Regions from separate parts of the Homo sapiens genome. Here region 1 is linked to region 2. A link means that fine-mapping ties the variant in region 2 to the expression of a gene that starts in the linked region. Tissue or cell type: fibroblasts. Region 2 holds a variant in brackets; the other region holds the start of a gene. All regions are shown on one strand. Distances are between the middles of the regions.

Region 1 (5,220 bases), 23 kb after region 2:
AACCTACTGATGAAATGTGCATAAATGGCTCTGTTCCCTTTCCATAGGAATAAAAAGAATGTCATGTTTCTGACCAGGCACGGTGGCTCATGCCTGTAATCCCAGCACTATGGGAGGCCAATGCAGATGGATCACCTGAGGTCAGGAGTTTGAGACCAGCCTGGCCAACATGATGAAACCCCGTTTCTACTAAAAATACAAAAATTAGCTGGGTGTGGTGGCAGGCGCCTGTAATCCCAGCTACTTGGGAGGCTGAGGCAGGAGAATCGCTTGAACCTGGGAGGCAGAGGTTGCAGTGAGCCAAGATCATACCATTGCACTCCAGCCTGGGTAACAAGAGCAAAGTTCTGTCTCAAAAATAAAAACAAAAAAAGAATGTCATATTTCTGGCCAGGCACAGTGGCTCACGCCTGTAATCCCAACACTTTGGGAGGCTGAGGCGGGAGGATCAGTTGAGGTCAGGAGTTTGAGACCAGCCTGGCCAACATGGTGAAACCCCATCTCTACTAAAAATACAAAAAGTTGGCCGGGCGTGGTGGCTCACGCCTGTAATCCCAGCACTTTGGGAGGCTGACGCGGGTGGATCACGAGGTCAGGAGATCGAGACCATCCTGGCTAACACGGTGAAACCCCGTCTCTACTAAAAATACAAAAAATTAGCCGGGCTTGGCGGTGGGCGCCTGTAGTCCCAGCTACTCGGGAGGCTGAGGCAGGAGAATGGTGTGAACCCGGGAGGCGGAGCTTGCAGTGAGCCGAGATCGTGCCACTGCACTCCAGCCTGGGCAACACAGCGAGACTCCGTCTCAAAAAAAAAAAAAAAATACAAAAAGCCTGGTGTGGTGGTGGTGCCTGTAATCTGAGCTACTCAGAAGGCCGAGGCAGGAGAATAGCTTGAATCTGGGAGGCGGAGGTTGCAGCGAGCCAAGATCATGCCACTGCAGTCCAGCCTGGGCAACAGAGCGAGACCCTCTCTCAAAAAAAAAAAAAAAAAAAAAAAGTCACATTTGTGGGAAACCTTTTTTTTTTTTTTCTCTTGAGACAGAGTTTTGTTCTTGTTGCCCAGGCTGGAGTGCAGTGGCACGATCTTGGCTCACTGCAATTACTGCCTCCAGGGTTCAAGCTATTCTCCTGCCTCAGCCTCCCGAGCAGCTGGGATTACAGGCGTCTGCCACCACACCCAGCTAATTTTTGTATTTTTTCAATGGAGGCAGGGTTTCACCATTTTGGCCAGTCTGGTCTTAAACTCCTGACCTCAAGTGATCCGCCCGCCTTGGCTTCCCAAAGTGCTGGGATTACAGGCGTGAGCCATCACGCGCAGCTGGGAAATCTTAAAGTATATGTATTTGTGGCCCAGATCTTAAAAATACTGATCCAGGGCCTGTCAACTTTCTGGGAATAAACACCTTGTAGCCTTTTTACTCATTTAAAATATATTTATATTCCCACAGGCAGCAAAATGCATAACCCACATATTAGCAACAATTCTAGAAACAGGAATACGAGAAGAAGCAGGGTAGCCTAGTGGTTAAAAGCAAGGGCCTTGCTGTCAGCTTGTCCTAGCATTGAATCCCATTTCCACCACGTACTTGCTCTGTGACCTTGGGCAAGTCACTTTACCCCTCAGAGTCTGCATTTTCTCATGGGCAAAATGAAAAGAATAATCCTAAATTCTAGGGTTGTTGTAGAGAAGTGATAACATATATAAAATGCTCATCACAATTCTGGCACATACAGCTTGAAAAAATGGTAGCAGTTGTTATTATTTGAGAGAAAAGCAACCCTAATGTGCAAAGAAATGAACAGTTTGAAAGCCTTCTGGCATATTCTCCATTTATTCCTTACAACAAACAAGAGTTTGAACTAGGAAAACAATAAGGATGGATACTTTATCCCTAAAGAGTTGGACCCCGAACAAAAAAAATCCCTACATTTTCAGTGACATTAGAATAAGAGAACTCAACACTTTGAAAATAAAGTCCCAGAGAGTACAGAGTAGAAAAGGTATTTCTATTTCTTAATTTCTTTCTCAGCACTAAATGTATCAGCTCCTCAAATTCATCTCTGGTAAAAAAAAAATAATAATAATAATAATAAATAAATAATGAATGGATAAATGAGTTTGAGGCTCTGAGAGGTGAAGTGACTTATTCAAGATGACACCGCTAGTAAGAACGAGATTTCTCTGGCACTTAGTTTCTCCAGCTGAAAAATCACTGCTCTGAATCAAGTCTAGGGCTCTCACCACCGAGCCTCTTTTGACTGAGCCCAACTTCGCCGGCGCGTCTGGACAGCCGGGTTCGAGCCGCAGGGGTTTGGGGCAGGGGTGCCAGGTGCGTGGCTCTGCGAGGGGATTAAAGCCCAGGTGCGGCCTCTGCCTCCAACTCAGGTCTCCCTGGGGCCGCCCCAGGCCCCACAAGGGCCAGGTCGGGTGAGCGCCCCCCAAGGGGCACCAGACCCCGCCAGGTCGGGGGCCCCCTCGCCAGGGCCGCGTGGCCTCCGCCCCGGACTTACAGAGAGCACCCACCCCGGTCTTCAAAAGGCCAGAGTCGTCCCGCCGCCTGGACCCCTCAGCCACCTCCCGGGCCTCCTTCCAGCGGCCGCCACCTTCTCCACCAGCTCCCTAGTTCTGGTTGCCACCCAAGCTCCGTCCCCATGGCAACCGCCACCGCCGGAAGCGACAGGCCCTAAAGCGACAGGGCAGGGCGGTGGTCACGTGCCAGGAAACGGTGACGAGCGTGCCCGACGTGCCTCCTGCCGGTCGCTGGCGGCATAGACTTTCCTCGCTTTTCTGTCCTTCCTCCGCTCGCACGATCCCACCTTTTCACATGGTCCCGTCCCCTAAGAAGCTGCAGCGGCCAATACTGCCAATTTTTACTTTCCGCAACCTTGGCAAGATGGGGTGGAGAAGTATGAACTCGGATACAATGCTCTTTTCCAAAAGCAAACTGAATTTCCAGGTCTCATGGATGCAGCACACAACCGTCCTGCCTGCCTCCTCACCGGGCACCGCGTGTTGCAGACAATTCCAGCTGGCTGGGGGCAGATATGACACAGGGTGCACCAGCTTGCGGTTCTCAGCACAAAGCGTTTCCGCAAAACCGGTCTGGCTATATCTATTAGGATCATTCCACGTCAAAGTGGCTCTCCACTAACATCTCATGGAAGACGGCAACAGGTGGCCACACGGGTTTCCACTGGGACCCCTGCAGGAAACCAGCCAGAGCCACTGAGGCAGAAGGCTCTCTGCTGCTGTCATTTTAGGAGAATGTGAATAATTCTCCCCGCCCACACTGCCATGCCCCAGTGATGGTAAATTGATTAATATGCATACATCTTAAAATAAAAAAGAAAGGATAAACTGGGCAAGCTGTGTTTATTATAGTCTGAGACTTTATAAAAGAGACTGGAAAATACGTGGAATTAGAACATGCAATTTAAACAGCAAACATTGGTAAACACAGCATGTCTGTGGCTACCAGAGGGGAATACGTATGGCTGTCAGGTCAAATAGAGTTTGAGGGAATTCGCCCAATAGGAAGGCTTTGGAATTGAGTGTGAGAACCTGTGGCTGGAAGCACACAGCAATACCAATCCCATCAAGGCAAGCTGGTATCTGTATCCAACCACAGCAAAACCAGTCCCAAGGAACACAGGGCTTGCCTGGCAGAACTGCCAAAACAGAAAGCGGTGTGCAAGAACTGGGGAAATGAACACTGATACCATGGAGAGGAAAAAATAATTCAAAGTATTGGCAGGAATCCCTGAGAACCATTTTACCATCTTAAAAGAGACAAAAAATAAAAGGGAGGAAGAATAAGCATTTTCAAGAGGTCTGATCTACTCGTTCCTATCCATACCTCAGCGGTTTACAAAATAGCGCTGATCTCAGGGCATAGCCAGGAGGTTCAATTATAAAAAGTCAAACTAGCAGTGGGCTGGGCGCAGTGGCTCACGCCTGTGATCCCAGCACTTTAGGAGGCCAAGGCAGGAGGACTGCTTGAGCCCAGGAGTTCGAGACCAACCTGGTCAACACAGGGAGACCCTGTCTCTACAAAAAATAAATTAGCTATGCATGGTGGTGCACGCCTGTGGTCCCAGATACTTGGGCGGCTGAGGCAGTGCCCACAGCGTCAAGGCTTCAGTGAACCTTGATCACGACACTGCACTCCAGCCTGGGTGACAAAGCAAGACCTTGTCTCCAGAAAACAAAAACAAAAACACACAAAAACGGAGGGGTTCTTACTAGCGAAGTGAAAGGAGCTTGCTGCCCTCTGGTGGGTTCCTAAAGAGGAAGCTGACAGGACACCACGCTGGGCCACCTGGGAAGCCTCCAGGCTTTCCCTGTTCTCCAAAGGGAGCTACTATGGCCCTGACAGCCCAGCTGCTGAGGAAGCACAGTACTTAACCATTTCCGTATCCACAGCAGCAAGGCCTCAGTGCAAAGAAATATGTTGGTCAAAGCCTGACTTTGCAATTGCTAGCCTGTTTTGCCCAACTTTCTATGAAGCTCTTCTGACCCCATCTGAGCTTTGGTTTGGGAGGGTCATAAGAAATTCAGCTGGGGTGACAACAGGGTCATATCAGCACTGTAAAACTCTTTATTAAAAATAATAATAATAATCACACCAGTACCTGCCAGAATAACTTCCGCCCACTTGCCCACAATCCAGGGAATTCCTATTTAGGGCCGTGGCCTAATTTGTGAAAGAGGCCAAGCCTAAGTTTTTAAGAATGCCTTAATCCAGGGAGATTACACTGGTGGGCCACAGTACTGCCACCACACAGAAGTTCAGGTTACAAGCCTCTTCCAGATCCTTATGCTTCAGGGAGAGAAGACAAGTTGGAAATCCCTAGACCCAAGTCCAGGGCAAGGGAAGATGCTTTCCTGTTACTGTTCCCCAGGGACAATCATCTTTGCAGAGGAATAATGTTGCAGCTGGAAGAAAGAAGAAAAGGAATGGCGTAAGTTTGGAGGCTCCCTTCAGGAAGGTCAGAGGCTGAGCCCTTCTGACCTTTTCACCAATGTTCTTTCATTCTTTTAAAGCAAATGCCTAGTGCATGAATGAACTGGAGAGACTCCCAGGAGAGACTCTGGGGCTCCCTCTGCTTCTAGAGCTGTAGTCTCGTTCCTACCACGAGGATTTATCTGCAGTTTCCATGCAAACTGGGGATTCCCATTATTCCCCAATGTCTCCCCAGCCTTCCCCTCCAGCTTCATGT
Region 2 (5,220 bases):
TAGGAGCAAGAGGAATGTTGGGGGGAAAGGAAAGAAGATGGACATATGGCTGCATAACCATATTTCCCTGGCTGAGTCTAGTCACCCAAACCCTCTGTTTGGATTTTAGATCCTGCAAGTCAGGCATGTACTTACCACAGTGCCTGGCACAGAACAGGTACTCAATAAATGTATGACAAATGAAGCATGCAAGGATGAATGAGACAAGTCACAAAAGCAGGGAGCAGTGACTCAGGAAATAAGGAGACCTGATAGAAACTTTCTGGGTGTCCTTGGCAAGTCACCTCATGCAAGTTGGGAGCAATAATGATAACTTCCCTATACTCCTCAGAGTTAGTTTTACAAGGTTTGAAGTAGTTAAGAGCACACTTCTAGAATAAGAAAGACTGCCAGGTGGGTGATTTTAGACAAATTATTTAATAATTAATGGTAGTATTCCACAGATATTAATATCTTTTTTGCTAGCATGTTTGCATGGATTATGTGAGATAATGTAAGTAAAGAATTTAGCAGACTCTGGAACATAAGTGCTTCAAAAATATTAGCTATTATATTCAAGTAAAACAAGATCAGGAAATGAAAGGGTTTTAAAAGCTCTACTGAGGCCAGGTGCAGTGGCTCATGCCTGTAATCCCAACATTTTGGGAGGACAAGGTGGGGAGATCACCTGAGGTCGGGAGTTCAAGACCAGCCTGACCAACATGGAGAAAACCCGTCTCTACTAAAAAAAATACAAAATTAGCCAGGCGTGGTGGCACGTGCCTGTAATCCCAGCTACTCGGGAGGCTGAGGCAGGAGAATCGCTTGAACCTGGGAGGCAGAGGTTGTGTTGAGCCGAGATCGTGCCATTGCACTCCAGACTCCAGCCTGGGCAACAAGAGCGAAACTCTGTCTCAAAACAAAAACAAAAACAAAACAAACAAACAAAAACACTCTACTGCAACATAACACAACTCTACTGAAACAAAAAGTAGGTTTTGGCCTGGCATTTGTAGAACTTTGTTTTTGTTTTTTTGAGACAGAGTCTCACTTTGTCACCGAGGCTGGAGTGCAGTGGCGCAGTCTCGGCTCACTGCAACCTCTGCCTCCCAGGTTCAAGAAATTCTCATGCCTCAGTCTTCCAAGTAGCTGGGACTATAGGCATGTGCCACCACACCCAGGGAATTTTTGTATTTTTAGTAGAGACAGGGTTTCACTGTGTTGGCCAGGCTGGCCTTGAACTCCTGACCTCAAGTGATAACCTACCTCAGCCTCCCAAAGTTCTGGGATTACAGGTGTGAGCCACCACGCCCAGCCTGGCCTTGCACCTGTATAACTTCAGGTTGATGTTTACAGGCTCCAACTGAACTCACCTGAACACCGTACTCTGTGGGGAGTTCGAGAGTGCATGCTGGCGTTTCCACTGCCAAAGTCCACTTCCAGATGCATACCTTCTGTAGGTGACAGTAGAGAGAGGGGCATGAGAAGGTCTGTGAAGTCTGCTGAAGTAACTTACACCTCTTGTGGTGACCCCAAAACTTCAAGTAACTAAGGACAGAGGCCCAGACTCTGTGCTGTGGAGTCTGGTCTTTTGAGAATATCACAGACATCACACAGCCCAGCCTGAACAGAGCTGCCCATGGGGACACGCTGCACAGGTCGGCCAGCTCGCTGATGCTGACCCAAAGGGCCAGGGCCTTTACCTGGACTTCAGCATCTGAGATGGTTGCCAGATACTTGGCGTCGTGGGTCATGGCCATGGCCATGATGCCATTCCCTTCAGGGCAGCTGTCAAATATTGTGTGCACAGGAATACTGCAAAACAGGACAAGGGGGGCGACACTTGCTGAGGTCTCCCTGGCTTCCCAGAGAGTCCCAGGGCAGGTCTGAGCTCAGCCCAAACCTCTCCAAAACAGAACAAAATGTGGTCTATCCATACAGTGGAATCTTTCTGAGTCATAAAAGGGAATGAAGCACTGATGCATGCTATGACATGGATGAGCGTCGGAAGCGATGCTGAGTGAAAGAAGCCAGGCACGAAAGGCGTGTGGTGTATGAGTCCACTCATATGAAACGGCCGGAATAGGCAAACCCACAGAGACAGATAATGGATGCAGGGTGTCCTTCTGGGGCGGTGAAAATGTTTTGGAACTGGATAGAGATGATGGTTGCATAAGAGTGTAAATGTATTAAATGTCACCGAACCGTATGCTTTAAAATGGTCAGTTTTATGTTATGCGAATTTAACCTCAACAACAATAATAGTCAAGCCTAACTCAAGGCAATGGGCCTGCTGTTTGCCCTCTTCACAAGCTCTAGGTTCTCATTCACTAGGTACCAGGCACTGATTCTGTGCCAGGTTGTGCCTGGCAGGAAGGATGTAAATATGAAAAGATGACTAGGACAACGTCCCAGCTCTCAGGGAATCGGGCACTCTCCTACACAGGTGGGAATGCAAAGGAGCAGCACTTTTCTAGAAGCAGTTTGGCTGTATCTATCAAAACCTTCAATGCATACACCCTACAGCCCAGTAACTCCACCCTTACGACTTTTTCCTAGGGAAATCATGGAAAAAGTAAACAAAGGTCAATGAAAATTCACAGTCATCATGGTACTGCTCTAATAGCAAAAATCAAACAACACAAATGTCCCTTAATATACCATACATGAATTATTTAAAAAGATATTATAGCATAACCATATGATAAGAAACTAGGCTGGGCACAGTGCTGCATACTGGTAATCCCAGCACTTTGGGAGGCTGAGGAGGGTGGATTGCTTGAGCTAAGGAGTTCAAGATCAGCCTGGACAACATGGCAAAACCCTATCTCTACCAAAAATAGAAAAATTAGCCAGGTGTGGTGGCACGTGCCTGTGGGCCCAACTACTTGGGAGGCTGAGGTGGGAGTATCGCTTGAGTCCAGGAGGTTGAGGCTGCAGTGAGCCAAGATCACGCCACCGCACTCCAGCCTGGGTGATAAAGCAAGATCTTGCCTCAAAAAAAAAAAAAAAAAAAAAGGCCAGCATGGTGGCTCACACCTGTAATTCCAGCACTTTGGGAGG[C/T]CAAGGCAGGTGGATCACCTGAGGTCAGGAGTTCGAGACCAGCCTGGCCAACATGGTGAAACCCCGTCTCTACTAAAAATACAAAAAATTAGCCAGGTGTGGTGGTAGGCACCTATAATCCCAGCTACTCGGGAAGCTGAGGTAGGAGAATCACTTGAACCCAGGAGGCGGAGTTTGCAGTGAGCCAAGATTACACCATTGCACTCCAGCCGGGGAACAAAAGTGAAACTCCATCTCAAAAAAAAATAAAGACATAAAAATAAAAAATAGAAATAAAAATAAAAACTTTGCTGCCTTCAAAAAGAATGAGGTAGATTGGGAAAGTGACCAAAATTTGTGAAAAAAGCACACTGCAAAACAATCGCATCATCCTAATCATGTGTGTGTGTGTGCGTGTGTATGTATTGAAAAAACTCTGGAGGAATAGACTCCAAACTGTAAGCAATGGTTCCTCTGAAGATGGGGTTTGGGTGAGGAGGAACTTTTATTTTTTGCTCTTACATTTCCATACTGTGTTACTGACAAGACCTTAGAGCTGTATGATTCCAACACAGCCTTGAAATACCCAGAATTAGATGACATGCAAGTATCTAAGACAGCCAAAGCACAGAAGCAGTGGAAGCGAAGATGGAAGCTGTAATGGTTGGGTTGGGGGAGGTCTGCTGATTCCCACTGGAATGAAAAGTAGGTGGTAGCAAGACTTAAACCAGGAATGCGGGTCACATGGTTCTTTTTTGTTTGTTTGTTTGTTTGTTTATGGAGTCCTAGATACAGTGAAGATAAACAGGCCTCAGCATCTCTGTATGTCACGCTAGGGTCCCAACTGGCTGGTATCAAGTCTGTGTCCCAGCTGAGGACTTCTCTGGTTCTCTGTCACTGGAGAAACTTCATCCTACTGAGAAGTAGCCCCAGAAATTCACCTGGGAAGGCAATTCCAAAATGATTGGAAATAACACAGTGAAGTCCTTAGTGAGAAAATGTATCTCATCCCTGGAGATACTTGGAATTGAATATAGAGAAGATGAAGTCAGTCAGACCTGCATTATTAACATATTTGTGATAAGAGAATTTGTTCATTTTTTAGGAATTTGTAATGTTTAAGTGAATTTGACATACCAGAGTTGCTAACAGATTAGATTTGTGATGCTAATTTAAAATATATAGTTGATTTAGACTTGTGATTTTAAATTAAAATCGTAATAGGTTTATAAACAATATTAGAACACTTAAGGAAACTTAAGATTTACCATATTTATGTCTAATTTACTAGATTTGCAGTAATTACTTAAGTACCATGAAGGATTTGTTTGTTAATCAGACTACTAAAAAACGTAAAGAAACTAAATCTCTTAAATATTGAAATGCAGTTTTACATGTTTAAAAGGAGTTAATAACCAAATTTGTAAGTGGGGCCAAACATTAATCAAAGCCTCTTCAAAGGTGATTGCAAAAATATGCTAGATTTATAAACAGAGTAAGATTTTTAAGCTGAGCGAAAAACTGGAGGAAGAACTACGGTTTTTAATTTATCACTAATAAAATGAATATTAATCCTAAAACCAAAACAGCCTCTGAATAATCTTTTCTGGGTCCCAAAGTAATCACTTGGGATATCATAAAATTCATATTAACATAGCATTTGCATTATTAACCACAGATATGCTTTACTGTGAAATTTTTTAAAAAAAATCACTGCCCTCAAGTTGCTTCATGTCTAGTAGAGAGAGAGTTTCACAAATAAGGAAAAAACAGTGGCTCCACATCATAACGGGGCAGCTCTGTCTGGTGAAGGTGTTGGTCAGCAAAGGCTTCAGAGATGAGACACACCTGAAGGACTCTGACCCTTCTGCCGGCCGACTGCAGGCTTCTACTGCATGAGATAATACCCTTCCCTTGTGGTTAAGTTGGATGTGCCAGTACTTGCAGCTGAGAGCGTGTAGCAGCCACAGACGGCTATGGGTGCAGGCAGCGGGCATTTCACTTTCTGGGGGAAGTGTCTGCAGGGCCCTAATGCAGGGTGCGTGTCCCCTGTAGCATAAGTTGATTTGACAATGGACAGTCTCTAAAGGGTTTTAATCAGGGTGGCAACACAATCAGATTTGTCTGGGAAAACATCACACCAACAATGTTGTGGAGACAAGCTACATGAAGATATCCATATACGTGTGTTCAAAACAA

Evidence for each region. PIP is the estimated chance that this variant, and not a neighbour inherited with it, causes the effect.
Region 1: CFAP251 starts here. The variant in region 2 is fine-mapped to the expression of CFAP251 in fibroblasts (GTEx, PIP above 0.99).

Annotation. Positions count from the first base shown.
Region 1 is chr12:121,916,000-121,921,219 of GRCh38, reverse strand. It overlaps CFAP251 (cilia and flagella associated protein 251), which reads right to left and starts at 2,628. Exons shown (of 22, transcript NM_144668.6): 1 at 2,525-2,628. It overlaps PSMD9 (proteasome 26S subunit, non-ATPase 9), which reads right to left. Exons shown (of 6, transcript NM_002813.7): 6 at 2,923-4,936. The coding sequence ends at 4,909. RefSeq lists a silencer at 2,350-2,499.
Region 2 is chr12:121,939,108-121,944,327 of GRCh38, reverse strand. CFAP251 (cilia and flagella associated protein 251) reads right to left here. Exons shown (of 22, transcript NM_144668.6): 6 at 1,683-1,794; 7 at 1,353-1,433. Among named protein-coding and RNA genes, the nearest start is that of CFAP251, 23 kb to the right of the region's middle. The variant C/T (reference allele first, on the strand shown) is at 3,043.